4 linked regions of the Homo sapiens genome follow. The protein of the gene in region 2 purifies or fractionates together with the protein of the main gene of each other region. This does not show direct contact. Each region holds a gene or a part of one and is shown on either strand. Other genes may lie near its edges. The genes, in order: DLD, PDHA1, RPA3 and VDAC1.

The links.
Region 1: the proteins of PDHA1 (region 2) and DLD purify together in Homo sapiens (affinity purification with mass spectrometry; 6 studies listed by BioGRID and IntAct, with this or other methods). This does not show direct contact.
Region 3: the proteins of PDHA1 (region 2) and RPA3 purify together in Homo sapiens (affinity purification with mass spectrometry; 2 studies listed by BioGRID, with this or other methods). This does not show direct contact.
Region 4: the proteins of PDHA1 (region 2) and VDAC1 purify together in Homo sapiens (affinity purification with mass spectrometry; 2 studies listed by BioGRID, with this or other methods). This does not show direct contact.

Annotation. Positions count from the first base shown.
Region 1 is NC_000007.14:107,915,162-107,921,704, reverse strand, and holds the end of DLD (dihydrolipoyl dehydrogenase, mitochondrial isoform 1 precursor), read right to left. Parts: intron 6,200-6,543; coding exon 6,009-6,199; intron 4,912-6,008; coding exon 4,741-4,911; intron 4,433-4,740; coding exon 4,243-4,432; intron 3,782-4,242; coding exon 3,644-3,781; intron 2,696-3,643; coding exon 2,606-2,695; intron 2,512-2,605; coding exon 2,446-2,511; 3' UTR 507-2,445; downstream 1-506. UniProt on the Homo sapiens protein: Lipoamide dehydrogenase is a component of the glycine cleavage system as well as an E3 component of three alpha-ketoacid dehydrogenase complexes (pyruvate-, alpha-ketoglutarate-, and branched-chain amino acid-dehydrogenase complex).
Region 2 is NC_000023.11:19,346,910-19,353,936, reverse strand, and holds part of PDHA1 (pyruvate dehydrogenase E1 component subunit alpha, somatic form, mitochondrial isoform 1 precursor), read right to left. Parts: intron 4,626-7,027; coding exon 4,566-4,625; intron 4,001-4,565; coding exon 3,827-4,000; intron 2,678-3,826; coding exon of another isoform or gene 2,657-2,677; coding exon 2,530-2,656; intron 856-2,529; coding exon 764-855; intron 1-763. UniProt on the Homo sapiens protein: The pyruvate dehydrogenase complex catalyzes the overall conversion of pyruvate to acetyl-CoA and CO(2), and thereby links the glycolytic pathway to the tricarboxylic cycle.
Region 3 is NC_000007.14:7,638,600-7,645,626, reverse strand, and holds part of RPA3 (replication protein A 14 kDa subunit), read left to right. Parts: intron 1-4,451; 5' UTR 4,452-5,208; coding exon 5,209-5,307; intron 5,308-6,482; coding exon 6,483-6,557; intron 6,558-7,027. UniProt on the Homo sapiens protein: As part of the heterotrimeric replication protein A complex (RPA/RP-A), binds and stabilizes single-stranded DNA intermediates that form during DNA replication or upon DNA stress.
Region 4 is NC_000005.10:133,987,969-133,994,995, forward strand, and holds part of VDAC1 (non-selective voltage-gated ion channel VDAC1), read right to left. Parts: intron 5,051-7,027; 5' UTR 5,045-5,050; coding exon 4,978-5,044; intron 4,388-4,977; coding exon 4,338-4,387; intron 3,187-4,337; coding exon 3,034-3,186; intron 2,940-3,033; coding exon 2,887-2,939; intron 1,276-2,886; coding exon of another isoform or gene 1,167-1,275; exon of another isoform or gene 1-1,166. UniProt on the Homo sapiens protein: Non-selective voltage-gated ion channel that mediates the transport of anions and cations through the mitochondrion outer membrane and plasma membrane.

The sequences.
Region 1 (6,543 bases), on a different chromosome or scaffold from region 2:
ACTAGCAAAAATGGTCATACCCCATCATCTACTAGAGCAATTATGTAGTATTTTACTTAGAACAGTAGAAACACTCTCCATTCCTTTTCAGCTAAACAACTAAAGATCTCACTTTGAAATTACTTTTTTTTTTTTTTTGAGACGGAGTTTCGCTCTGTCGCCAGGCTAGAATGCAGTGGCATGATCTCAGCTCACCGCCTCCTGGGTTCAAGTGATTCTGCCTCAGCCTCCTGAGTAGTTGGGATTACAGGGGCCTGCCACCACACCTGGCTAATTTTTATATTTTTAGTAGAGATGGGGTTTTACCACATTGGTCAGGTTGGTCTCAAACTCCTGACCGCAGGTGATCTGCCCGCCCCGGCCTCCCAAAGTGCTGGGATTACAGGAGTGAGCCACCGCTCCCAGCCAGTTGAAATTACTAATTTTAATCAGTTCAATGAAGTGGACAATTAATTTCACTCTTCACAAGCCACAAAAATATTGACAGCTTAGTAGATAACAGTAAGTGAACACTTAAAACTTGTTTTATTCCTAGGACTTTATTCCCCATACAGATAAATTTGCATTCTCATACTGAATGTAAACACTTAAAGATGGATTTAACTCTACAGCTAGAATTCCATATTAAATTATATTTCACTATTCCCTAACTAAAAACTTTTTTTTCCCTGAGTAAGGGATATGTTGAGATTTACATAAACAGCACTTCACATGATACCGGGATTTCAAATTTTTAAAAAGATGCAGAGTTCACTTCCAATAATGGCAAAGTAGCACACAGATATCAGACCAACCCTCCTGCTGATAGCAACTGCAAACTCTGAACAAATATATTTTAGAAAAAACTAAAGGCACTGGAAACAACTATAAACAAGTGGAAAGTAGAGGGAAGTTGGCACTTAAAAAGTGAACAGCACTGGCTCAATGTCTCATTTTTAACGGGTTCTCACTTGAGGGGGAAACAAAAGCCAAGTTTTATTGGTTAAGGATCAGAAGGCAGAATATGGGGCAACCACAACAGCTGGAACATAAAGGGGAAACCCCCAAAAAACAGGAGGCACAGAAGGGGCAGACTTCCTTCTGCCCAAACTCTGGTTGACCCCTGAACTACACACTTGCATGGGAAAGACTTCCAGCAGCATAGCTAAAGCTAAAACAACTGAGAAGAGATTTCAGCTGCTGCCACCTACAAACAAGACAGAGTGTGGAGTTGGTGTTCAGCCAAGTTAACTGCCTCCTAAGACAACAATCAATTTTCTTTAGAAGTATGTAACAGAATCCAGGGTCATTATGTCACTCATGAGCATGAGACAATCTATGCTATCTATACCAAATTTCAGAACTACTTAATCTGAATTATTCTTAAATTTAGTTACAATATGCAAAAGCCTACTTAGCATTTAGTACTTTGTTACTTAAGTTTCCTCAGGACATGGCCATTTTAAACACCACACATCCAATTTTACAACACTCTTTAAATAAACAGTCATTAACCCAGCCAAGGAAAACACAGATTAAAGACTCCCTTATGTTGTACTTCTCCAAAAGTATATATTAAACATTTAGTAGGTGTATCTAAAATAGATGAAAGGATGATGACCTTTAAAATGCCTTAATATTGTCCTATAACATGAAAATAAAGATACATTCAGGCCTAGAAAAGAAATTAGAATATACACTAGAAGTAGTCATAAAAAAAACTATGACCATCTCAACACGTACTCATGATAACCAGTAAATGAATATTTAAGACGTTTATTTCAGTATCTTCATTCCCCACTGTAATACATTTGAATGCCCACGTATTTGAGTTCCGTAAATAGACTCTCTTAATTTGGGTAACTATATAATTACCCTTCAGAGTTGCAGACAACAATGGAAGCTTTAAAACCTCTTCAACACAAATGCTACCCCTAAAATGAAAGAATTTAGAGGTTAAATAAAACAAGTGAGAGACCGTTTACTTACATCAGTTCGGTTTATAGACATTTGAATCATATCTGAATGACTGACTTGTTTCCAATGTGAAAACCAAATTAAAAATAACTTGATCACTGTGCTTCAAACACAACTGTTCACATATCAAATTCTAGCTCCAGCCATGTAAAATTCAACTTTTCTGTATCAGAGAAAAAAGCTATTTAAATTCAGGGGCATTGAATCTTTCATGAACAGCATGAAAATATGAGTTGACGGAGATATTCCAGGATGCTACAATAAGTAGCTTTTTGTCTTACACATTAGTGCACTGAAACAAAATACTAAATTTATGTAAAATATAGATATAAGAGTATTCCATTTTGTCCAAACCTATTAAATACCTTCCAAAAGTTTCATAATTCAGTCCTAGAAATTCTTGGAGCTGTGAGAATATCCTGTTCAGGAATGTGACTTCTACAAAAGCTCCCAGGAAATTTCAGAAAAAAATATATATAATCTTCTAATTCAAAAGTTGATTGATTTGCCAAATGACGCAGCAAGATTTGCTTCTCTAAAAGCTTCTGATAAGGTCTGCAAGGGAAGAAATTTAAAATTAAAATCCAAATATTTGTGGGTCAGAAGAAAATTTAGGCAACCATCAATTCTATATGTTGTTAATAATTACCGGATGTGCATGACAGACTCTAGCTATATCTTCACAGGATGCTCCATATTCCAAAGCAAGAGCAGCTTCATTTACCATTTCTCCAGCACCCTTTAAAATAACAAGCCAAGTAAATTTGCTTCCAAGGCAAAAACTACATGCTAATAGGATAGCAATTGTTGAGGGGAAGCTTTTAGATCTTAAAAACGCCTTAAATCTGTTTCTTTATCAGTTGAAGAAAAGTCAGGAAAAGCTTAATAGAAAAGGTGACACAGAAGAGCTTGGGCTCTGGAGCCAAAGGGCCTTCAATTCATATCTACCACTTACTACCTTAACCATTCATTGGTTCTTTGTGCTTCATTCAGTTTCTTCACCTCAAAAATAACAGCACCTATTTCAAAAAGCTGATGTAAAAATAACAAAATGTATACTAAAGTGACACAGCACTCAAATATTCTATTCTCATTATTGTTACATCAGATACAAGAGATATCTACAAGAAAGATACATACTTTAGGCTCAGTGGTAGGAAAGGCTTCCCTTAGGAGGTAACATTTGAGCTGAGACCTGAATAATAAGGAGCCAGCCATTCAAAGATCTGGAGGCAGAACAGTCTAAGCAGAGGGTATCTTAAGCACAAAGGCCCTAAAATGCAAATATTTGGTCTGTTGTGAAAATGAGAGAAGGCCCATGTGACATGGCATTAATGAGTAAAAGAGAGCAGAAAAAGAAGAGGTCAGAGAAGTAGGCACAAACAGATTCAGTGAGGCCTTGGATGTAACAATCTGAAGTTGAAAAGCACCACTGGAGGATTTTAAGGGGCATAATCTGGTGTATGTTTTAAAGAGAGAATCTTGGCTGCAGGACAAAGTAGATGATACAGTGGGCAAGACTGTGAGAGTGCTGCTGGTATCCTTCTAGAAATGATGCACAGAGAGCCATATTCAAAGTTTTGCTGGAAATGAGCAACCTCAGACTAACACCAGGTGGTTTATAATTAATAAACAGCAATGCTTTCTAGAAATCTTAATGGGATTTCTCTGGTTTTACAATACTCACTGGTCCAAGAATATGTGCTCCCAGTACTCTGTCTGTCGATTTCTGCCCAAGGATCTTCACCATGCCATCTGTGTCAGCATTTGTCTTAGCTCTGCTGTTAGCAGCAAATGGGAATTTCCCAACTTTGTACTCAATACCCTGTGACAGTCAGAAAAAAAGAATCTACGTAACTGCCAGAAAAGTTCTTTCCAATTTGTAAAATCATCTACCATTTGTTCAGAAAATAAATCCCAAGAAGGGAATTGTTCGCAAAGCACATAGAAGGAAAGGAAAGACCAGAAGACTGGTTAATGAACTATATCTCAGGCACGAATACAAGCAAATACAAATGTCTGTCCATCTGGTTATATTTCAAAGCCAAATATAAAAGATCTGGAATTACTAGTTTTTTAATATAGGCAACTTCTCTTCCTCTCAATTACTGCTGATAAATCTGTGAATGATCTCTTTATAATGCTAACAAGGGAAAAATATATAAGCTAAACAATATTTCACAGCTGTTAAATATATTAGCATAATGATAAAATGCTGTTTCTCAACCACCAATGTCATTGGCACAACTCACACATTGGCTTAAAACCACCCATGTTCAGACTTACCTCTTCTTTCAACTGCTCTTCTGATTTGCCAACCCAAGCAACTTCAGGGTGTGTGTAAATCACTGATGGCACACAATTGTAGTCAATGTGCACAGCACCACCAGCCATTCCTTCAACACAGATAATGCCTTCATCCTCTGCTTTGTGAGCCAGCATTGGACCAGCAACTACATCACCAATGGCATAGATACTACCACAGAAATCAAAAGAAACACAATGAATTTCTGAAATCACAGCTACTTACCTTCAGTTACATTATGGTAACAAAAGTTTCCAGTAAACAAGTCACCAAAAAATACATCAAATGCAGCTCTTCAAAAATCTATGAATTCAGCTTATCTTTGAGTAAAATTCAGTTATTTTTTATTTTACATTTTGTAAGTTTACTATTCTTCCCCAAAGCCAATACATATTTTAAGCATAAAAATCTTACTTTTCAAAATACTGTTTGAAATCAATTTTAAAATTACTGAAAATGCAGACAATTATCCAACTTACTTTGGAATTTTAGTTTGAAATCTGGTATTGACTGGAATTCTACCTCTGGGATCTAGTTCAATTCCCAGCTCTTCTAGTCCCAAATTCTTAGTAAAGGGTCGTCGGCCAATGCAAACCAAGAGTACATCACAAGTGATAACTTCAGCTTTACCACCAGAAGCAGCTTCAATACTAGATAACAAACAGTGTATAAATGTTAAATACACACCTACATAAATTGATAGGCTTAGAAATTTAAGGCCAGCAATTTCTCAAGTGTTGATGACATTTTCATTTTTGTTTTGTTTTGTTTTTGAGACAGAGTCTTGCTCTGTCGCCAGACTGGAGTACAGTGGTGCAATCTCGGCTCACTGCAACCTCCACCTCCCAGGTTCCAGAGATTCTCCTGCCTCAGCCTCCCTAGTAGCTGGGACTACAGGCACGCGCCACCACGCCCAGCTAATTTTTGTATTTTTAGTAGAGACGGGGTTTCACCATGTTGCCAGGCTGGTCTTGATCTCTTGACTTCATGATCTGCCCATCTCAGCCTCCCAAAATGCTGGGATTACAGGTGTGAGCCACCATGCCCAGCCGGCACTGATGACATTTTTAACAATATAAGTTTATTTGAATATAAACATAAGAGTCAGACAATGAAAGAGATCTATCATTAAAATCTAGAGGTCTGTTATTAAAATCTCACAAAAACCACAGTATAATAAAACAGCAGTTAAGAATACAGGTCTTTGAGTCACAGAAATCCAAATTCAACTACTGACTGCCACCCACTAGCTGTGTGACAAGTTAGTCATTAATTAGTCAATGAATTCAGCTTCTTATCTTTGAGTAAAAGTCATTAAACTATTTAAATACTATTAACTATTTAATTTAAATATTTATTTAAAAACTAATTCAATAAGTTAAATGCCATTAAAGTATTTAATCAGTAGAGTACCAGACATATAGTAAGCAATCTTTTATTATTGATTTCCCCATGTATCTGCCTAAAAATATTGATTCAATTTTACTTATTATTGGGAATTTAAATTTTTCTGAATGTACTATAAGAAGGCACAACAATGAGAATATTGGATTCTCTTTCTAGCATTAACCTAATCATAAATTTCAATGTGCTAATGCAATAATTTGATAAGCAACTGAGTTATATTAAGTAATAAAATGACCTTAAGTTAGAAAAAACCCTATATTTGCTAAACTGATTTTGAAACTTGAGTGTTTTGCTTAAAGAGACAGGGATGATACATCAAAAACAAATGATGTATACTTACGAAACATCAATTTTTCCATCTGACTTCTTGGTAGCACCAGTAACCTTTGTATTCAATTTAAATTTAAACCCCTGTTTTTGAAGGATGCGTTGAAAGTTTTTAGATATCTCCATATCAATTCCAACTCCACCTACATGACCTAAAAATTCAACTGCTGTCACATCTGCACCAAGTCTTTGCCAAACTGAACCCTGCAAATAAATTAAAAAAACCCAATAATCATAAAAGTTTCTATAGCAAATGTTTACGAAATCATCTTAATAATTTATTGTAAAACATTTTCTTCTTTCGCTAGTATGTTCCTATGAGAAGCTCCGAGGTTTAAAATTGACCCTGTGTTAAATATGTATAACTTCATACATTTATTAACTTACTCATTCAACATTTGTTGAACATCTACTACATGGTAGGCAATATTTTAGCTTCTAGGCATACATTAGTAAACAAAGCAAAAATCTCTGTTCTCAGGGATCTTATATTCTGGCAGGGGACATAGACAAATATGTAAAATTCATAACAGAGAATAAAGTGCTAC
Region 2 (7,027 bases):
AAAACAACACATAATAGAATCTTAATATATTAGAAAGGAAAAGAAACAGTCCGGATATAATTTTGTGCTGTTAATTCTTCATCATTCACTAACTGATGAGAACAAGGACCCCAAAATGAAGTTGACAAGATAAAGCAATTAATGTACTGAAATATAAATAGGAAGGGGAAGGTATGGCTCCACTGCTAGAGGTTCCTGCTTACTTATAAAACAGCAGACACCTAAAAGGAAACATTATAAATCACCATCCAAATCTACTCATCTCTCAAACGGTAGGATATGAAGCACTAGGTCTTTAAAAGCAAACCAAGCCCCCAAAATAGTCACGCGTCACTTAACAACAGGGATATATTCTCAGAATTGCATCACTAGGCGATTTTGTCATGTGAACACCATACTGTAATGCACGAACCTAGATGGTACAGCCCACTGCACACCTAGGCTGTATAGTAGAGCCTACTGCTCCTAGGCTACAACCCTGCACAGCATGTGACTCTACTGAATCCTGTAGGCAAAATATTTGTGTACCTAAACGTAGAAAAGGTAATGTGTTGTGCCACTACAACATCACTAGGCGACAGGAATTTTTCAGCTCCATTATAATCTTATGGGTCCAACATCATATATGCGACATTGACCAAAGCGTCACTGTGCAGCACATGGCTGTACTACTTCAGGAAAAGTTGTCTGGGGCTGTGAAAGTTTTTGAAGACAAAGTCCAGGGCCAAATCTAAAGCAGCACACAATCCTCGTCCTTGACTACCTGCGCTCCCACGATGCCATTGCCCCCGTAGAAGTTCTTGGCATACATGTGCATCGATCCTCCTTTCCCTTTAGCACAACCTCCTTTTCGTCCTGGAAATGGCAGAACATACACATGTGCAGAACAAACCAACTCTACAAAGCAAACCAAACCGCACCCCAAATATGTACTCTGAGGCTCAACCATTAGAACACAGAGGCCAGTTCAGTCGTCTAAGTACCTGTCCCTCCAGGCAAACACATGTTTCTCCTTGTCCTTTCACTAGTTCCATGTGCTTCAACCTTTCCAGCTTTTCCTACTCTCTAGTCACTTAGTTTCCTTCAGATGTTCCATCCAGATGATACCCTGGACTTTTCTGGGTTTTCTGGCCAGTTACAAACATCTTAGGACCTCTCCTATACTAGTACACTAAATATATTCAATCCTTGAACAGGGTTTGAACTGCACAGGTACACTTATACACAGATTTTTTTTCAGCCACACATGTATTGAAAATAGAATATTCTCAGGATGCAAACCCGAAGATATGGAAGGCTGACTTTGGGACTTGAGTATTTGAGGATTTTTGTATACTCGAGGGTCCTAGAACCAATCCCCTGGATATATAGAGGGACAACCATAGTTCAAGAGTCAAGGAGGGCCGGGCACGGCGGCTCACGCCTGTAATCCTAACATTTTGGGAGGCCGAAGAGGGTGGATCACCTGAGGTCAAGAGTTCAAGACCAGCCTGGCCAACATGGTGAAACCTGGTCTCTACTAAAAATACAGAAATTAGCCAGGTGTGGTGGTTGGGCACCTATAATCCTAGCTACTCAGGAGGCTGAGGCAGGAGAATTGCTTGAACCCGGGGGGCGGAGGCTGCAGTGAGCCAAAATCATACCACTTCACTCCAGCCACTCCAGCCTGGGTGAAAGAGTGAAACTCTGTCTCAAAAAAAAAAAAAAAAAAGGAGGAGGAGGAGGACCGGGCACAGTGGCTCACGCCTGTAATCCTAGCATTTTGGGAGGCTGAGGCAGGCCACTGCACTCCAGCCTGGGCAACAAAGCGAGACTCTGTCTCAAAAAAACAAAACAGGCCAGGTGCGGTGGCTCACGCCTGTAACCCCAGCACACTTTGGGAGGCCAAGGCAGGTGGATCACCTGAGGTCAGGAGTTGGAGACCAGCCTGGCCAACATGTTGAAACCCCATCTCTACTAAAAATACAAAAATTAGCCAGGTGTGGTGGTGCATGCCTGTAGTCCCAGCTACTCAGGAGGTGGAGGCATGAGAATCACTTGAACCCGGGAGGTGGAGGTTGCAGTGAGCCGTGATCACACCACTGCACACCAGCCTGGACAACGGAGTGAGACACAGTCTCAAAAAAAAAAAAAAAAAAAAACCACCAAAACAAACAAATAGTCACGGGGGACAAAGAAAAGGGGAATATTAAGAAGATTTCTAGAATTTACATTGCATACCATGGAGTGCTTCAACCGAACTTACTTTCTATGACTGCTAGACTTCTTCTGGCATGCTTGAATGATAACCAAACCTACTGTGATTTTATAGCACCAACCTGTTTTAAACTTTTACCTGAGGGGCCAGAGAACTTCACAAATGGTCAGTTAACTCAAGAGCACAACAGAAGTACCAGAGCACCAAAGGAGAGAGGGTTAAAAAAAGAAACTTAAAATTTTTAACAAATATTAACTCATAATAGCATCTTAATGACAGATATTTAAAAACTTAATCCACTCATTTCCCCTTTCTGTAAATCAACAGCAAACCTGTAAGCTCTGCGAGAATTTCTCGGACGGAAAGGCCCCGGGTGAAAGTAAAGCCGTGAGCCCGGTAGGCTGTGATGAGATGGTCTGTGGGGTTGATGCCGGCCTCCAGGCCCACACAGCAAGCTTCCTGTGTTAGAGGAAGGAGAAACTATGAGGCAATATGATACATGTTTCTAAATAAAAACGTTTCCTAGACCACAGTGAAATATGTGGGCTAGTAGAACCTGTCATTAATAACCAGAGAAAGTAGCTATTTTCCACCAAAATACAGAGTGGAAGGCCCAAACCAGAAGCAATAAACTGGCAACCCACACATGTGCCACTTCCTTCCTTTCTCCTGTATGATGACCTAAAAGAAAAGCCTACATCAGATGTCAACATTAAAACACTGGGGAATTTCACATGAAAATCCAGACTTCCGCCTTCTCTTAGACATGGAAAACAGGAAACATTACCCCTGATTTCCACATGGCACCAACTGGCTGGAACCAAGTCATGGCATTCCTCTGGGTAGGGCATGCTGGTGCCAGTTCAGCATGAGTCCCTGTCACCATTTTCTGTTTTGTATACCTAGCCTTCTTCACTCATTTATTCTACCTGGCTGGCCCTTGTAGGTATTTGACTCTAACCCTTGACCTAAGCCCACAAAACAAAAAACAAACTAATCCTTTCTCTCCAAATTATATACAGTACAGGCGATCATAGTGCCAGAAAGTTTTAAAATAGTAAAACTCTAAGAACAGGTACAGAAAACTGGCAATGTTATGTGTGAATGAATTCTTTAGCCTAAGCTTCATAGCAGGTTTTGGCATTCTACTTTTTAATTCTAAAATACTGGCTTCAGCCAGGCACAGTGGCTCACGCCTGTAATCCTAGCACCTTGGGAGGCCAAGGTGGGCGGACCACTTGAGCCCAGAAGTTTGAGACTAGCCTGGGCAACATAGTGAAACCCCGTATCTCCAAAAAATACAAAAATTAGCTGGGTGTGTTGGTGTGCACCTGTGGTCCCACATACTCGGGAGGCTGAGGTGGGAGGATTGCTTGAGCCCAGTGGACAGAGGCTGCAGTGAGCCAAGATCACACTGTACTCTAACCAGAGGCTGCAGTGAGCCAAGATCACCACTGTACTCTAACCTGGGCGACAGAGAGAGACTGTCTCAAAAAAATAAATAAATAAAAGAAAATTACATTACCAGCCTCAAACTCTTCTGATACATATGGCAGGGTAAAGCCCAATAAGTACAAGCCATACTTCAGTACCTAAATAACACAGTTCCACCACAAACCTACCACTCACCTGACCATCACACAAGTGACAGAAACCACGAATAATTTTCTGTTTATACAGCTGATCTGCTTTCAACTCCATTCGGCGTACAGTCTGCATCATCCTGTAGTATTTGAGCCCATCCTCCCTGGTGAGCACTGTTGTGACAGGAGGGCCTTCTTCCAGCCGGTGAAGGTCACATTTCTGAAATGGAATAAGGTAGTTATTATCCTCCACATACTACATTGCAAACACTGTTGACCACTCTAAGATCTAACTCCATTGCAAATAATATTGAACTTGAAAAACTGCAAAGGAGCACATCAGTAATGCTTCATATCGCCTCTGTTCCTTAAATCCATAAACCTCACTGTGCAATGAGATGGGGCTTGGGGGAAGGAAATCTTTCTAAGATGATTTTCACTGAAAGCCCCTAGAAGCCAACTGAGTTATAGGTTGAAAGAACCTTCAAAGAAACAACTAAGACTCTTCTTATTCAAATATTTCACTGAATTACATTCCAAACTTTTGAATAAGCTTTTATTTTTATTTTCATTTTCTAGCTCCTCCCCCTTCCCCCCACAGAACAACAGCAAGCTGCTAATAATAAATTCTAGTTTTCGTGAAGCTTCTCTGAACTTCTGATCCTGGAACATTTAGAAGAAAATGATGACTAAGCATGAACATCAAAATGTTCTATTCTAAAGGTAAAACTGTATATCAGAGTGTACCTGTGAAAAAATTATTAACAAAGTAAAACACCTCTTACCTTAATTTCAAATGTAGCATCATTTGCAAAATTACGGGATGCTACCAGCACTCTGCTTGCCTTAAAAGACAAAAATATACAAACAAATCAGTACTTTTTAATTGTCAGCTATTTTGGAAAGTATAATAATCAGTTATCAGAATGAAGTTATGGAAATTTAATAAGCCCCAACATATTCATAGGCTTCTCTTCCACCCTGTGCACTGTGTTTGCATCTTCCTTGGCCTCCAAAATGAATCCATGCTTTGGCCAATGAAACAGGATTATCCCGCATCTGAAGGCAAGCAGCGCAAAGAGGGGCAAAAAACAAACCCATCCTTTGTTTTCAAAGAAATTATAGTGAGAATATAATGAAATTAGTGGCTAAAGAGACTAGATCATCTGTGAGCTGTGTCTGTTTATGCCATTCTTTTGTTTGTTTGTTTTGAGACGGAGTTTTGCTTTTATCACCCAGGCTGGAGTGCAGTGGTGCGATCTCGGCTCACTGCAACCTCCGCTTCCCGGGTTCAAGTGATTTCTCCTGTCTCAGTCTCCCGAGTAGCTGGGATTACAGGTGCCCACCACCACGCCCGGCTAATTTTTATATTTTTAGTAGAGATGGGGTTTCACCATGTTGGCCAGGCTGGTCTCCAACTCCTGACCTCAGGTGATCCACCTGCCTTGGCCTCCCAAAGTACTGGGATTGCAGGCATGAGCCACTGCGTCTGGCCTTTTCATGCCATTCTTAGTCATAACCAGATACTGTTCATTTTGAGCAAGCCAAAATTATACTTCAAATAAAACTATGATTTAATCTCCACTCTAGGCAAACTTGACTCTTCTATCAAATTGGATCTGTAAGAAAAAATATTTTAAATTGATTGAAGTATGAGATAAATACTTTAGGGAGACAAGACAAAAGAAAAGATACTTAGCACTCTCTGACTTAAACACAATGGGCTTGAGCCAGCTGTTTTATAATTTATAATTTGAACAGCCTAAATCTTGGACAGGCTCCTCCTGAAGCCCCAGTAGAAATGTTCTCTGAAACACTGTTCTCTTGATGTTTGGGTGGCTGTCACTGTTTGGAGGTAAAAAGCTTGGAGGCGGGGGGTGAGAAATGATTCCTTTCCAGTTTTACAACTGAGCAAACCTGCTCACAGCAAAAGTATTCTATGTAATGGCTAAGGTTTAGGTTAGACCACAAAATTTATCCAGTAGTATTATCATACTATTTTAGCTCCCTTCTGCCACATTCTCACACACTGACGTGTAAACCAACATGATTTCTCCATAAAAAGCACATCTGATGTGTTCATACCTTACCTAATCCAGCACTGGACTGATCTTGGTGAGAAGAGTTAAGACTGATCTGCCAAGTATACCCTGGAGTGTACAAGCCAATAGGCAGAAAGCTAATTACGTATATCTTCACCCCTCAATAGACCATTATTGGACAAAGCCAACAAACACAGACAATGACAGTGCTGGAGGAAAACAACTGAAATACTAGGAATCAGTGTTTCAGTTAACTTACAGGCAGAGACAGTCCACTAATGTATCTCAGAAAAAGTGAAGGAAATTTAGGAATTTGGGAAGAAGTAAAGCTGAGAGAAGGTGAAACAGCAAATCAATGGTTATATTTAGCAATCAAACAGATGTGTTATTCTTGGCAGTTAATAAATATTTTGTGGGGCCAGAAATTTATTGTATTGTGAAATAAATTTCCAAATACAACTACAGAAACTGCAGTTTTTGGAAGGCAGGAGTCCAAACCAGCCAGGCGACAGTAACAGAGAAAAGGTAACTTCTTTCTCAATCCTAGAGTTGAAACAATGAGGCAGGATAATGCTATACAATAAAGAGCAAGAAGGGGCCCAGTGCTGTGGCATGCGCCTGTAATCTTGCGCCTGCAAAGATTAGGACTGCCAGAAAGCTACTTAGATACTTTCTCCCATGGCTTCATTACTGTGTATCTCAAAAATAAGAACCACTGATATGAGTGAAAGGAACAAAGTTAAAGAAGCTAAAAGTCCTATCAGAAGTGTGTGTGTATCATTTCTGAGTGAGAGCTTGTTGAAAAGATAAGTTTACCATTCATTTTCTCTGGAGAGCCATAAAAAGATTCTCTGTTAAATGGGATTCCTCTCTGACAGAGACCACGAACAACCCACTCAAATTTTAAAAAATAAAAACTAGGCCGGGCATGATGGCTCACACCTATAATCCCCAGCACTTTGGGAGGCCAGGGTGGGAGGACCACTTGAAGCCAGGAGTTCAAAGCCAGCCTGGGCAACATGAGACTCTCATCTCTACAAAAATAAATATTAAAAAATTAGTCAGGTATGGTGGCACACACCTGAGGCTACAGTGAGCTATGACTGTGCCACTGCATTCCAGCCTAAAAAAAAAAATTAATTAAAAAAAAGTAAAACTTTAACTTCCTAAATACATAGGAACCATTCATGTGAAAGAGGAAAAAC
Region 3 (7,027 bases), on a different chromosome or scaffold from region 2:
AGGAATAGAAGGAAAATTCCTTAATCTAATAAACAGAAATTCAAGTTGGGAAGGACTTCGGGGAATACTCCTTAAAGGAAGCTGAATGCGGGTCCACTTCTCTGCCACATAGAACGTGGATTTACTTGATAGCTGAAGCTCCATCACTTACCTGGCCTATGAGATAACCATAAATATGGAACTAGATATTGAATGTAGAACTACAGAAAGACAGAAAGAACCTGGGGCCCTGAGTCTTAGTGCACTACCACATAAGTACTAAGTTGCACAGCTGTGGACTTCTTTCACATGTGAGAATAAGCGTTTGTGCATTAAAGATACTTTTGTTTATGCAGCTAAACCCCATCTTGACTTAAACACTATTTCTATTCAAAATGGTACTGAAGGCTCTATCCTAGGCAAAAGGTAAGAAAGATAAATAAAATATGTAAGAATTCTTAAGAAACAAAACTATAATTATTCAAATATGAATAGAAAATTCCAAAAAAAACTGATAGAAAATTCTTAAAATGGCATTTCTATATACCAAAACAATCAGTTAAAATCTTTAATTTAAAAAATGATACCATTCATAATAGCAACAAAAACAAGGTATCTAGGAATAAATCTAAGCTAAAAGTCAAAACTTTTATGTAGAAAAGTATGAGACCTTTTGGAAAGATTTTAAGAGGACCAAAATGGCTCAAGGATAGTAAGAGTTGACATTCAGGTGTTACTTTTCCTGAAATACATCCAAGGATACAGTGCAATTTTGATCAAAATTCCAACACAGTTTTTCCTGGAAATTCATAAGCTACATTCTATACAGAAGAGCAAAGAGACAAAAATAACCAAGACATTCCCGAGAACACAGCCCCAGACATCAAAAGTTATGATAAGCTACACTATTAAAGAAAATAGGTAGTGGTTCAGGGATAGAAAAATAGATCCATAGAATAGAATTGACTCCACACATATCTGTAAACTTAAGGTGACAAGTGAAGGTGGCAAAAAGGTGATACAGTCAAATCACATTAGGACAACTGAAATTAAAACAAAACAGAGATTGGAGACTTATCTGACAACATACATGAAGAGTGAATTCTAGATGACGGACTATTAAATATGAAAGGCAAAACTCTAAACATTTTAGGAAAAATAGAATACCTTTAAGAGTACGATGTATCAAAGAATTCATAAATGAGATTTTAATGGACTTTTCTCCTACATTAAACTTAAGGGGGAAAATGTTTAACTATATTAAAAGAGGTCTTCCTAATAAAAAAAAAAAAAGGATGGAATGAAGGAAGGAAACGGAAAGATAGGCCAAAAACAGACAACACTTGTACCATTACAATATCTCACTAATAAAAAGCTCTTAAAAGTCAGTAAGAAAAAGAAAAATCAAGGAAAAAAAGATAAACATAAATAACCAATAAAAATCTGAAAAAATGTTCAAACTTTTCAGTAATCAGGGAGTGCAAATTAGGGTCACGACAAAAAAACACTTCATATCCATCAAATTGGGGGAAAAAACTCCAAGAGTTGCCAAGAATATACAATAACTGTAAACTGTCTTATACTCCAGGTAAGAGAGTAAACTGGTACCACCATTTGGGGAAATCATTTTTTTACTAGTGGCAGAGATCCAAGTTACCCCAAGTTACCGGTGGCCTATCCTCACGGGTCAGTAGCAACTTCAGTCCTTGCCTCCTCAGACGAAAAAATTTGACTGAGGGGCATAAAGCAGAAACAGAGACCCAGGCAAGTTCCAGAGCAGGAATGGAAGTTTACTTTAAAAGGCCTTAAAACAGGAAGAAAGGAAGGTGTGCTTGTTAGAGACCCAAGCGGGAATGTGAAGGTTAAAGAGAGTAGGTCAAGTGTCCGATTTAACCGTTGATCCTTTTTTTTTCGTTTGTTTGTTTTTTTTTTTTTTGAGAGGGAGTCTCGCTCTGTGGCCCAGGTTGGAGTGAAGTGGCGCGATCTCGGCTCACTGCAAGCTCCGCCTCTCGGGTTCACGCCATTCTCCTGCCTCAGCCTCCCGAGTAGCTGGGACTACAGGCCCCCGCCATCGCGCCTGGATACTTTTTTGTATATTTAGTAGAGACAGGGTTTCACCATGTTGACCAGGGTGGTCTTGAACTTCTGATCTGAGGTGATCCACCCGCTTCAGCCTCCCAAAGTGCTGGGATTACAGGCGTGAGCCACCGCGCCCGGCCCTGATCCTAGGACTTTTACAAGCTTGTCTATTTCCCATGATTCTTTCCTTAGGATAGGCTGCCGGCAGGCACAGAGCCCTCCTTAGCCTTGGGAAGTGTTTTTAGGGAGTTACATGCACGCCCATCTGAGGCTTCCTTCCTTTTTCCGGTGGAGTGTACCTGGAAGATCATACTTTACCATTTTTGTCTCTTAATATGCATGCCCAGGAAGCTGTTTCTCCCTCGGGTCTACATTCAATTAACATTTTGATAACAGGTGTGGACCATCAGGAAATGGCCTCTCCCTGGCGCTGCAGAATTATCATTTTTAGAGAAGCAAATTCGGTAATTGCCAAACCATCCCCCAACATTTCTAGTGGGTTGGGGGAGAGCCCACTACTGTCCCACTCATGCCTACCTGTAACAGAAAAAAAAATATGATCTACGTACATTCGTCAACATAGATGAATCTCAAAAACAAACAAAAGAAGTCAGAAGATACATACGTTTCTGTTTATATAAAGGTCAAAGACTGGCAATATTAAACAACATACCATTTAGCAACGCCTGCATGTGTGATAAAACCACCTAGAAAAGCTTAGGAAGCTTAACACAAATTTCAAGATAGTGTTTACTTATGGCTGTAGCAAGGAGGGCTTCATTGGGGAAGTGCAAACTGGTAAAATTTACTGGTAACTGGTAAAGTTCCATTTCTTCAGCTGAATGACAGGCCCCATGGATTCATTTCATTTCTCTCAAAACTATGCAAATCGGCTAGCTATACTTTTTTCTGTACATCATGTATTTTATAATATTTTAAGTGACTCAAAAATACACGAAAAAGCTGTTTTAAATTATCTTCCTGCTCATCTCCCTGTTTTAAAAGAAAGCCTTTGCTTAAAAGTGGTCTTTCTAACTGCAGGTAAACAACGACATTAACATCTGGTACTCACAGGAGTGCTCTTTAAAAAAAAAAAAAATCACTATTACAGGGTACGCACCAAGGCTCACACCTGTAATTCCAGTACTTTGGGAGGGAGACGGGGGAGGGAGGGATCGCCTGAGCCCAGGAGTTTGAGATAAGCCTGGTCAACATGGCGAGGCCCCATCTGAACAAAAAAAAACAAACAACAAAAAAAAAATCTTTATTAGCTGGGTGTGGTGGTATGTGCTTATAGTCCCAGCTACTTGGCAGGCTGAGGTGAGAGGATCGCTTAAGCCTACGAGTTAAAGGCTGCAGTGAGCTATGTGCATGCTACTGCACTCCAGTCTGGGTGACAGAGAGAGATCTTGCCTCAAAAAAAAATGCTATTAAAGACATTGATGTGTGTACTCTCCCCTATATAATGCACATCAACTTGCTTTGCAAAACAATGCTAAAGTACAAAAGACTTAAAGCTGTAATATAAAATAGACTTTACTGACTTGCACCAATACAACCACAACTTTTTTATACACCACTGACACACATTCTACATCTGTTTAATGAAATCCTTTAAAGTACCGTTAGTGAGTAAAACTAAGACAAACCTATTAAGTGCTAAGGAAACACTAAGGGAGACTATCATTTAATTATCGTACATGAGATTCCAATCTTAAATTGCCACGTGAAGTCTCAAATCGGATCTTTTTTGCTTAAGGGAATTTGAACGATGACAATTCTGTAGCTTTGGGCCAATTCACAGACTCAGTTTCCACAACGTTATAATACCCAATTAAAACTTCTGTCCAATTTCCACCGTACCGTTTGAAGGTATTTTTATGTGCACTCATTCTAGAATACTCCTGGCAAGGCCGCCGGCTTCGGGTCACAAGATGAGCCAGGGACAGATTGGAGACTACCCCCAAATCTCCCAGGAATCGGTTATCTTCCAGACCTCCAGATCGCCCTCCAGAGTCTCGCAGTGTGGAGGGCAACGACAGAAAGACTGCTGAGGGGGTTTAAACTGTTGAGTCAAACATATGGCCAAAAGTCAGAGTCAACTGGGACCTTGCAAATCATTCCGCCTAACCCTTCGTTTTGCAGATGGGGAAAACACGCCTCAGAAGGGAGAACCCTAGCTCGGGGAACCCTAGCTCGGGGTCTAACAACGATTTAAGCTTGTCTCCCCTAGTACTGGCCAGTGGTTCTTCCCCGTTACCCATCCTTAAGTGCTTCTATTGGCTGCCAACACGGAGGGGTTAGCGGGGTGAAAGAACCGGCGCCTCCGCAGTGTGGCCAGGTTGGGCTAAAAAACGTCTTAGAAGTAATCGGATCAATCTCTCTTCTTACAGGTGGAGAAAGTGGAGAAAGTAGAGTGACGCAGCTAAGGGAGTAAATCGACCCTCAGCCAACAAGTGGCAAAAGCCTGAAGAAAGTGATCAAGATCACTGATGACCCCGCTGCCCATCTCCAAGGGGGCGGGTATCACAACCCCGACGCCACACCACGTATCATTCCGCAAAACTCCCGCGCCTCCCACGCAGAACTGGCAAGAGGGAAGGCGAGACAGCAGTGAACAGCTGGTACGCAGCACCCACAGCACCGCGGCAGCAGCTAGTGCCGACTCCCGCCTAGCTCTTTTGACTCTGTTCGCGGGAAGAATGGGGAAACAGTAAGGTTGCGGCGCCTCCCGCGAGACGAGGTACCTGAGGCTGGCCCCGCAGTCCCCCGCCGCACCAGCACCGGAGCTTCACACCCCACTTCCGGGGTCAAGTCACCGCCGGGAATCCTGTGATCGCAGAAAGGTAGTCTCAGGTTCCGCCCCTATCCAAGTCCCGCCTCCACTGCCTCTCGCCCTGTATCTGTCAACTTCCGGGACGCCGCGCGTCACTAAGCAGCCAATCTCCACTTCCGGACTCATCCAGCCCCTTCTCCACCCCTTTCAGAGACAGCGCGATTGCGATTTAGGTTTCCGCGCATTTAATTGGCGAAGCTGGAGCGCTAGTCTTCGCTGATTGGTGCCGAGAAATCTGCCCCATAGACACCCGCGGGGCGCACAGTTTCAGTCGTCCGTGGGTTTCCCGCCAGCCGCAGTCTTGGACCATAATCATGGTGGACATGATGGACTTGCCCAGGTCGCGCATCAACGCCGGCATGCTAGCTCAATTCATCGACAAGCCTGTCTGCTTCGTAGGGAGGCTGGAAAAGGTGTGCGGGTTCGCAATCATGGGCTCCCAAGTCCGTAGCTGGAGGGAGGGACCCCGCCTGGATAACGGGGGATGAAAAAGGACGGAAAGCCTCCGATCACTGCGCCCCCGACTCCTTTATTTTGCACAAGGAACTTTTTGGAAATTCTTTAGCCGTTGTAGCCCCATTTTGGCGCTCTTTTATGGCACGGAAACAAAGTGTTTTCAAATGCTGAGTTCTAAATTCCAGTGCCCGTCGCCTCCGTTCTAGCCGTGCTTACGTAAGGGAAATTATAAACACCACTCCCACATCTACCTTCAGATTTCTTAGTTTACTCAGACGTGACGGACGCAGACAAAACTAATCTGCTGGTTTCCTTCTCTTCTGAAATTACTTATTTTTGCAAACCTCGTTTCCTCGTTGTGATCGCTTCTCTGTAAAACATGCCTTGGTTGTCCGCTTTGGGTCCCGTAGTAACGAGTTATTTAACCCCAGTATTAAAGTGAAGTTCCCTCATTCTACAGGCGAGAAACAGGCCCAAAGTCTTGGAATCAGTGACCTGAAAAGCTGAGGAAAAGAAAACTATTATATAAAGACTTATTTAGTAGCTCATTTCATCCACACATCCTCTTCCTTAAATGAGTGTTGCTCTGACTTCCCAAGTAGGGAAACTGAGTAGGAGTGGTAGGTGGTTGACTAAAATGCTCAGAAACTCGGCAAATGGCAAAGCTGGCATTCAAACGCAATCTGACAGCGCTCTTTACAGCTGCTTCCCAGGAGTAGGACCCAGATATTCTAGCAACCAGTTCTCCTTTTACTTCATCATGCCTGTTTTTTAAAACATACCCTCCGTGGGATATGTACTGTCTAAATCATGAGTGCCAGCAGATTTCACTTTTAGGGTGGGCATCCTTTAATTTGTTATCAGAATAGGGTTGCCATATTTAGCAAATACAGAACCTACTTAACACTACAAAAAAAATCCTTGTTTATCTGAAATTCAGAAATTAACTGTGTGTTCCATGAACAGATTTGATAACATAAGATTATAATTTGATCCAATAAGTTGAATAAACTGAATGAATAAACTGTTCAAGAAACAGTTGATTTGTGCTCAACTAAGGATCAATGTACTCATCTTTAGTCAAACTTTGTTGTTGTTTTAGTGAGATTTTAATTATATGTTTCGTTTTTAGATTCATCCCACCGGAAAAATGTTTATTCTTTCAGATGGAGAAGGAAAAAATGGAACCATCGAGTTGATGGAACCCGTATGTTTAAGTGTTAATAAGTCTCTTATATATTATAGTTAATTCTTCATCTTGATTTGGTTTGTTGCCGATGTTTCTAATTTTTGCAATGGATTTAAAAAGGATGAGCTGGTAAAACGTCCCTGGCTGTAAAATTTAATTCTTGTACTATTCTCTCATTATATTTCCTTTTACATTTTTAACCAATGATTTTTTGGGCGTCATGATTTTTGAACATATCCCATAAATGTTGGATAACAATTCTCATTCCTTATGAAAGACCATAAAATCACATAAGAAAAATTTACGTTGCTTTTTTCTTCCTCAAGAGGTTTTTTGTTTCGTTTTTGTTTTTTTGTTTTGAGACAGGGTCTCACTCTGTTACCCCGGGTGGAATGCAGTGGCACCATCATGGCGCACTGCAGCCTTAGCCTCCCAAGATCAAGTTGCTCCCATGTCAGCCTCCCCAGTAGCTGGGACTACAGGCATGC
Region 4 (7,027 bases), on a different chromosome or scaffold from region 2:
CCAAACTGAGGGACATCTTAACAAAATAATTGGCCACTCTTTTTCAAAAGTGTCAGAGTCAGAAAATATTCCAGATTAGAGAAGACTTAACAATTAGATGCAATTTAGGAACCTGAACTGGATCACAGATCAGAAAAAAGACGTCATTGTGACAACAGATTAATTAACTATATGATATCAACATTAACTTGCTGATTCTGATCATTATAGTTACGTAAACCATTAACATTAGGAGCTGGGTGAAGAACACAGGAGAACTCTGCATACTATTTTTGCCACATTTTTTTCTAAGTATAAAATTATTTTGAAATAAAAAGTAAATTAAAAAAAAAAGGGGGGCAGGTGCAGTGGCTCACGCCTGTAAACCCGGCACTTTGGGAGGCTGAGGTGGGCAGATCACCCAAGGTCAGGAGTTCAAGACCAGCCTGACCAACATGGAGAGACCCTGTCTCTATTAAAAATACAAAATTAGCTGGGTGTGGTGGTGCATTCCTGTAATCCCGGCTACTCGGGAGGCTGAGGCAGGAGAAACACATGAATCTGCCCAGCACTTTGGGAGGCCGAGGCAGGTGGATCACGAGGTCAGAAGTTCAAGACCAGCCTGGCCAATACGGTGAAACCCCCGTCTCCACTAAAAATACAAAAATTAGCCAGGCATGGTGGCCCGTGTCTGTAGTCCCAGCTACTTGGGAGGCTGAGGCAAAAGGATCACTTGAACCCGGGAGGAGGAGGTTGCAGTGAGCTGAGATCACACCACTGCACTCCAGCCTGGGCGACAGAGCAAGACTCCGTCCCCCTCAACCCAAAAAAAAAAAAAACCAAAAAACTTTCCTTTGTGTTTTATACTGCATGGCCTGGAGACCTCTGCAAAGCTCCCTAAGGTCATGGGAAGGAAATCACCTACAAATTCCAAAGTGTGCTATCCCAGGGCAGCAGGCAAAGTCCCAGGCAGCAAATTCAAGCATGTGGGCACATCCTCCAGCCTCTCATCCTATCCCAGGATCTTTCCAGATAACCGCTCCCTGATACCATGGCAGAGTTCCTGGGGGGAGAGTGCACAGCACTGCAAAAAGGCAGTGCTCTTGCAGGAGAAACTACAGCAGCGAAGAGGAATGAGAGTAAATCAGCCCCGTAACAATGGTCTCTTCAGATCATCTATAGCCAAGCTATAAGACGACATCTCCAGAGGATAGGAACCATGTGTGCCCAGTCACTTGTGTGCACTGCACACCCAGCACAGGTCTGCACTTGGTAGATCCTCCCTCTAATAAATATCTGTTGGAAAGGAAAAAAGGAAGAAAGAAAAAAAATGAATGGCAAAACTGAAAAATTCATAGTGCCATTTAACTACACACTTAAAGATGTTAAGTTTTATATGTATATCTTACCACAATTTTTTTTTTTTTTTGGAGACAGAGTCTCTCTCTGTAGCCCAGGCTGGAGTGCAGTGGTGCGATCTCAGCTCACTGCAACCTCTGTCTCCTGGGTTCAAGCGATTCTCATGCCTCAGCATCCCAAGTATCTGGGACTACAGGCACGCACCATCATGCCTGGCTAATTTTTGTATTTTTATTAGAGATGGGGTTTTGCCATGTTGCCCAGGCTGGTCTCAAACTCCTGACCTCAAGCAATCCACCCACCTCAGCCTCCCAAAGTGCTGGGATCACAGGCATGAGTCACTGCATCCGACTCTTTTTTTTTTTTTTCTTTTGAGATGGAGTTTCGCTCTTCTTGCCCAGGGTGCAGTGCAATGGCACCACCTTGGCTCACCACAACCTCTGCCTCCCAGGTTCAAGCGATTCTCCTGCCTCAGCCTCCCAAGTAGCTGGGATTACAGGCATGCGCCCACCAGGCGCAGCTAATTTTTATGTTTAGTAGAGACAGGGTTTCTCCACGTTGGTCAGGCTGGTCTCAAACTTCCGACCTCAGGTGATTTGCCTGCCTCAGCCTCCCAAAGTGTTGGGATTACAGGCGTGAGCCACCACGCCCGGCCCACAATTTTTAAAAACTGAAATTCAGTACATGCCCTTGACCCTAACATCACTATATAAAACATCTTCCCCAGGTTTGGAAGACCCACCAATATGAGTGGAAAAAAACAAGGGTGTATTCTAAAAGGGAATAATTCCTTCTAGGCACTTTGAAAAGCACCCAGGAATTGAGGCAGACTACCATGCTATCATGCCAAGTGATGGTCAAGAACTAACAAGCCTATTACATCTGTGGCCAGAAGGCCTGGGGAAAGTGCAGCCTCAGGAGCCACCTTGCAGTTACACCCACAGGGTCTCAGTGTCCCTAAGCAGCAGGAAGCTGGGAGAAGGACTTCCATGCCTGAAGAAATGAGGCTGGCAACAGTGACCAGTTAGGCCCTGCTTCCAAATGTCACCCACTCCCGTTTGGTCATAGCCACTTACATCACCAGCAGCCTAACTCACATGAAATGGCTATTACTGAACAGAAATCCTGCAACCTCCATGGCAGAAACTAGGAGAACACTAACAAAATGCAGAATCTTATTACAAAACACGGCTAAACACTGGTCTGAATCCTCTATTAGAAAGTGAGCTCCTTGGCGGGTAACAATCATGGCCTGGGCACCCTTAGATCTCCAGATGGGCACAGGGCCAAGCACAGGTGGCACTTAGAAATCGTTTGTTGGGTAAACACCAGTCCTGAATTAGGAAGTGCTCATTATAGCATAGTCTGTTAGTGCATAGATGTGGATACGACCCCTGGGACCAAATCAAAACCAGAGGACTTAAATCGCCAGGTCTCGGAGACCATATTTTAGGTGCTGTCAGCCCCCAAAACATTTTGTCACAAAGGGCTTCCACCACCTGCAACATCAGAGAACATCCTTGTGGAGAAAACAGATGAAACTCTTACCCAGTGTTAGGTGAGAAGGATGAATCGAAGGTCAGCTTCAGTCCACGTGCAAGCTGAACAGAAAAGAAATTTGCCACTAGATTTAGTCACAAGGCAGGCTGGCAGATGCGAATTAATAAATCCACATCTTTTCACAGCAGCCATTACCTGATCTTCCACAGTAATCTCGGTGCCTAGTGTATTGTCGGTATTCCATTTCTCTGTAAACGTCAGGCCGTACTCAGTCCATCTGTACTTGGTTTCCAGACTGCCCGTCACTTTGGTGGTCTCAGTGTTGGCTGAGCCTGAGCTTGTAAATTCCTTCAAAGGAGAGAGAAGAGTCACAGCCTGCACCATAGCACTCACTTGGCTTCACTTCACTCCTAAACACTATACTTGCCTTTCTGCAAGAGGCAAGACCCTGAATGTGGGGGGGCCAAGGCTAACTCTACAATTCAAATAGATATTTAAAGTACAGATGGGAGTAAAGGAGCCTGCTATGTAAAGAAATCTTATGGGGAATTTGTTGTCAGCAGACAGCTTCCTTCCTCCCTGTAACTCTTCAGTCTGGACAGGAAAGCATCTCCCTTCCATCCTGGCTCCAGGGCAGTACAGAGAAAAAGCACTGAGCTAAAGCTGACACAGCGGTAATTCAAACCCAAAACTTCTTTCTTCCAACAATTACTGCACACATAATTTCAAAGGGACTACTAAGATTACTTTAAAAACACTTATGTGGTTGAATGCAGGTGAATTTGAAAATAAGAAGCACAAGGAAAACTAAAACTGAGACCTGACCCATTCTCCTCTATTACCCGCTGCTGAACTGGGGGCCTACTGGCATGGTTCCCCTGGACCACCCATCATGCAGAAAATGGAATGAATGTGAAAACCACAAAAACTGCCAGAATAAAAAAAAAAAAGTACCTTCTTTTGGCTTTGCGGGCCAGGTCACGACAGTTATTTGTTGATCTACAACAAATTCCCACGTTCCATACAATGGTCACTATTTGGGTAATGGGTACACTAGAAGCCCAAACCTCACCATTACACAATACATCCATGTAACAAACCTGCACATGTACACCCTGAATCTAAAATCTTTTTTAAAAATAAAAATAAGCCAGGCGCAGTGGCTCATGCCTATAATTCCAGCACTTTGGGAGGCCAAGGTGGGCGGATCACCTGAAGTCGGGAGTTCAAGACCAGCCTGACCAACATGGAAAAACCCCGTCTCTATTAAAAATACAAAATTAGCCGAGCATGGTGGCGGGTGCCTGTAATCCCAGCTACTCGGTAGGCTGAGGTAGGAGAATCGCTTGAACCCAAGAAGTGGAGGTTGTGGTGAGCTGAGATCACGCCATTGTACTCCAGCCTGGGCGACAAGAGCAAAACTCCATCTCAAAAATAAATAAATAAAATAAAATAAAAATAAATAAATACTCATGTTCCATGTGGGTTGGACAACTTACCAATCCATTCTCAGATTTTGTTTTCAAATCAAGCTTTATTAAGCCAAATCCTAAAGAAAGAAGAAGACAACTGTCAATAGGTTAAATAACTAGAGAACAGCACCTCTGCCTCCCTCATGGTTGCTTCAGGATGCTTTTTTAAAAAGAAGCACACTCCTGCCACAGGGGCTGAGGGCACCCAGTCTCTGCTGCTGCTCGTGGGGGGAGCTCTCAGCTGCCATGGAACAGCAGCAGACAGAATGGGCACCCCCACCTGGGTCCCACCTGCACTCCCAGCAGGGTCTGATAAGAAGACACCTGACAGCTGGCAAAGACACAGTTACTGGGCCTCGTGGGCATGTGCCTAAGCACAGGCTAAATATAGAAGCCGCGCTCCACTGCAGCAGCTTCCACAGGGCTGCTCCACACTTGGAAAAGAAAACAAGAATACCCACTTGACAGCACCAATGCAGGAGCCTGTCCAACTGGGTGCACAACCAAAGTTGCTACAATTGCCACACAAATGAAAGCTTCTTTTTTCCCTCACGTGAAAGTTCAGAACAGCTGACCTACCCAGGTCTCCTAAACAGTTATCGGTAAAGTCTCAAACATGCCAACTCAGTCTGTGAGCTGAAAGGCACCCCCTCTCTGCAACACTCACCATAGCCCTTGGTGAAGACATCCCTGGCAGATTTGCCAAGATCGGCATACGTGGGTGGCACAGCCATCTTCTGCTATGATAAAAGAATCACCAGAATAAATGCATTGATAATTAGGGAAATTAGCTTTCCATCAATAACAATTATTAGATGTAATTAGCAACCAATAAAAATCACCTAGCACTAAGACTACCAGGTAGCTTATCCTCCCAGATGGGCCAAGAAGCCCTTGCTGTCTTGTCCTTCATTTTGTGGCCAGAGCTTGAGACACTCAATGAGTCTTTGTTGACAGATGATCAACAATTTAGACCTCTCCTCCTCAGCATCCCCAGGACTGAGCCCAGGCCCAGAACAGAGTAGGAGTCAGGAAATATTTGCTTAATGAATAAACTGTCAAAGACACATTCCCATGAGCCAGTGACTTTACTGAATTGTAGGACTGTTGCCAATAAAACATATCATCTTACAAAATGTCAGCTACTAGGACATTAAATGTACCGAATAGAAATCAGAGCTTTTCATGGGAACATCATTTTCCATGTGGCTCTGATTTCATTCATTCAACAAATATTTATGGAGTACCTACTATATGCCAGGATGGGCCCAACTTTTCACAAAACTTTTGGACTTTATGGGAACCCACTTCATATTTCTCATAGAGAATACAGTAAAACCAAACCAGTTTGGCAGCTCTTCACATGGAAAAAACCCAAATACATCCTCCAAATACATTAAACAAATATTTATTGAGCTCCAGTGTAACTTTATTTTTAAAACCAACCATCAAAGGACTACTTGGGATTGCTGCATATCACTAAGTCAATCAACAAACATTTATTAAGCACCTCGGTGTTCAAGGAAGGAGAGTAACTCAAATAGTCTTTGCCCTAAGGACCACACTGCATTCCTGGAAGGCTTTGCTTTGGCATGCTGTATATGCTGTGTACACAGGATTAATATCCTAATCTGGGACTGTACATGGTGTGCTCTGCCCAGGAGGAGAGGGGGTCATGCATGAGAAAGCCTCATCTCCTGCACCTTCTCCATCCCCAGAATCATTAGTCTCAACCAGAAGGACCATTCCATTCGTTTTAAAATACAGTATACCTAAATTATCAAAATTCATCTGCATATATACCATCTGAAGTTACATGTATATATATTCACACAAATAAACACATATATGACATGCTCCTGGCATGTCATATGACATGATATGCTTCCATATCATCAATGGAAGTTGCATTCTTGGCCAAAGCTTTAACTTCAAAGGCATTGCAGGAGGCCACAGACTCACTGAGTATGTTGTAAAAGAAACAGTATAAACTTCTACAATTTTAAATTGTGAAGTTGTGATCCAGGTCCTACTTTACTTTTTCCAGATGCTTTGTTAATTTTATCCCAGCTCACTTTTGTGTCAGAGCACAGACAGAAGAGCAGCGAGCTGTTTACTCTGTCCTATTTTTGTCGCTGCTGTGTTATTTCTTGCACATGATCAGGCTGAAACCATGGACAGGTCAGCCCACATTAGTATCAGGGTAGAGAGATGAGGGGGGAAGATCCATTTTACACTGCCCGCCACTGGCTCTTTCCAGTCTGGGGGCTCCCCTCTCCCCACTTGTTCCTCCCTCCCAAACTAACCCTGTAGGTGCATCCCCCCGGGATAGACCAGGAAACCACCCACCAGAACCTCAAGAAATACCCTTTACCTGACACCTTCCTAGGAGAACAACTCTGGATTGAAAGCTGAGGCAATGTAACCCCAGGCAGACACAGAACATAACAGTAACGGGCCCAGAACATTCTCCACCCGACAGGGTTAACAAACCATCAGTGAACCAAGTACCCCTCTTCAGTGCTATGCCTCCCAGGGGGGCCACAAACTCAGCCGGGGTGGGGGCTGGGGAAGCAGAAGGAGAAGCAGTCCAGTGGTAATATCTGTGGGTCACCTAAGACCTCCCTGGACCTTAGGAGCCAGAGCCTTCCCCACGACTCTCCCCTGACCCCACAGAAGAGACGCCTCCCAGACACAGCAGCCTTCACATCTGGACT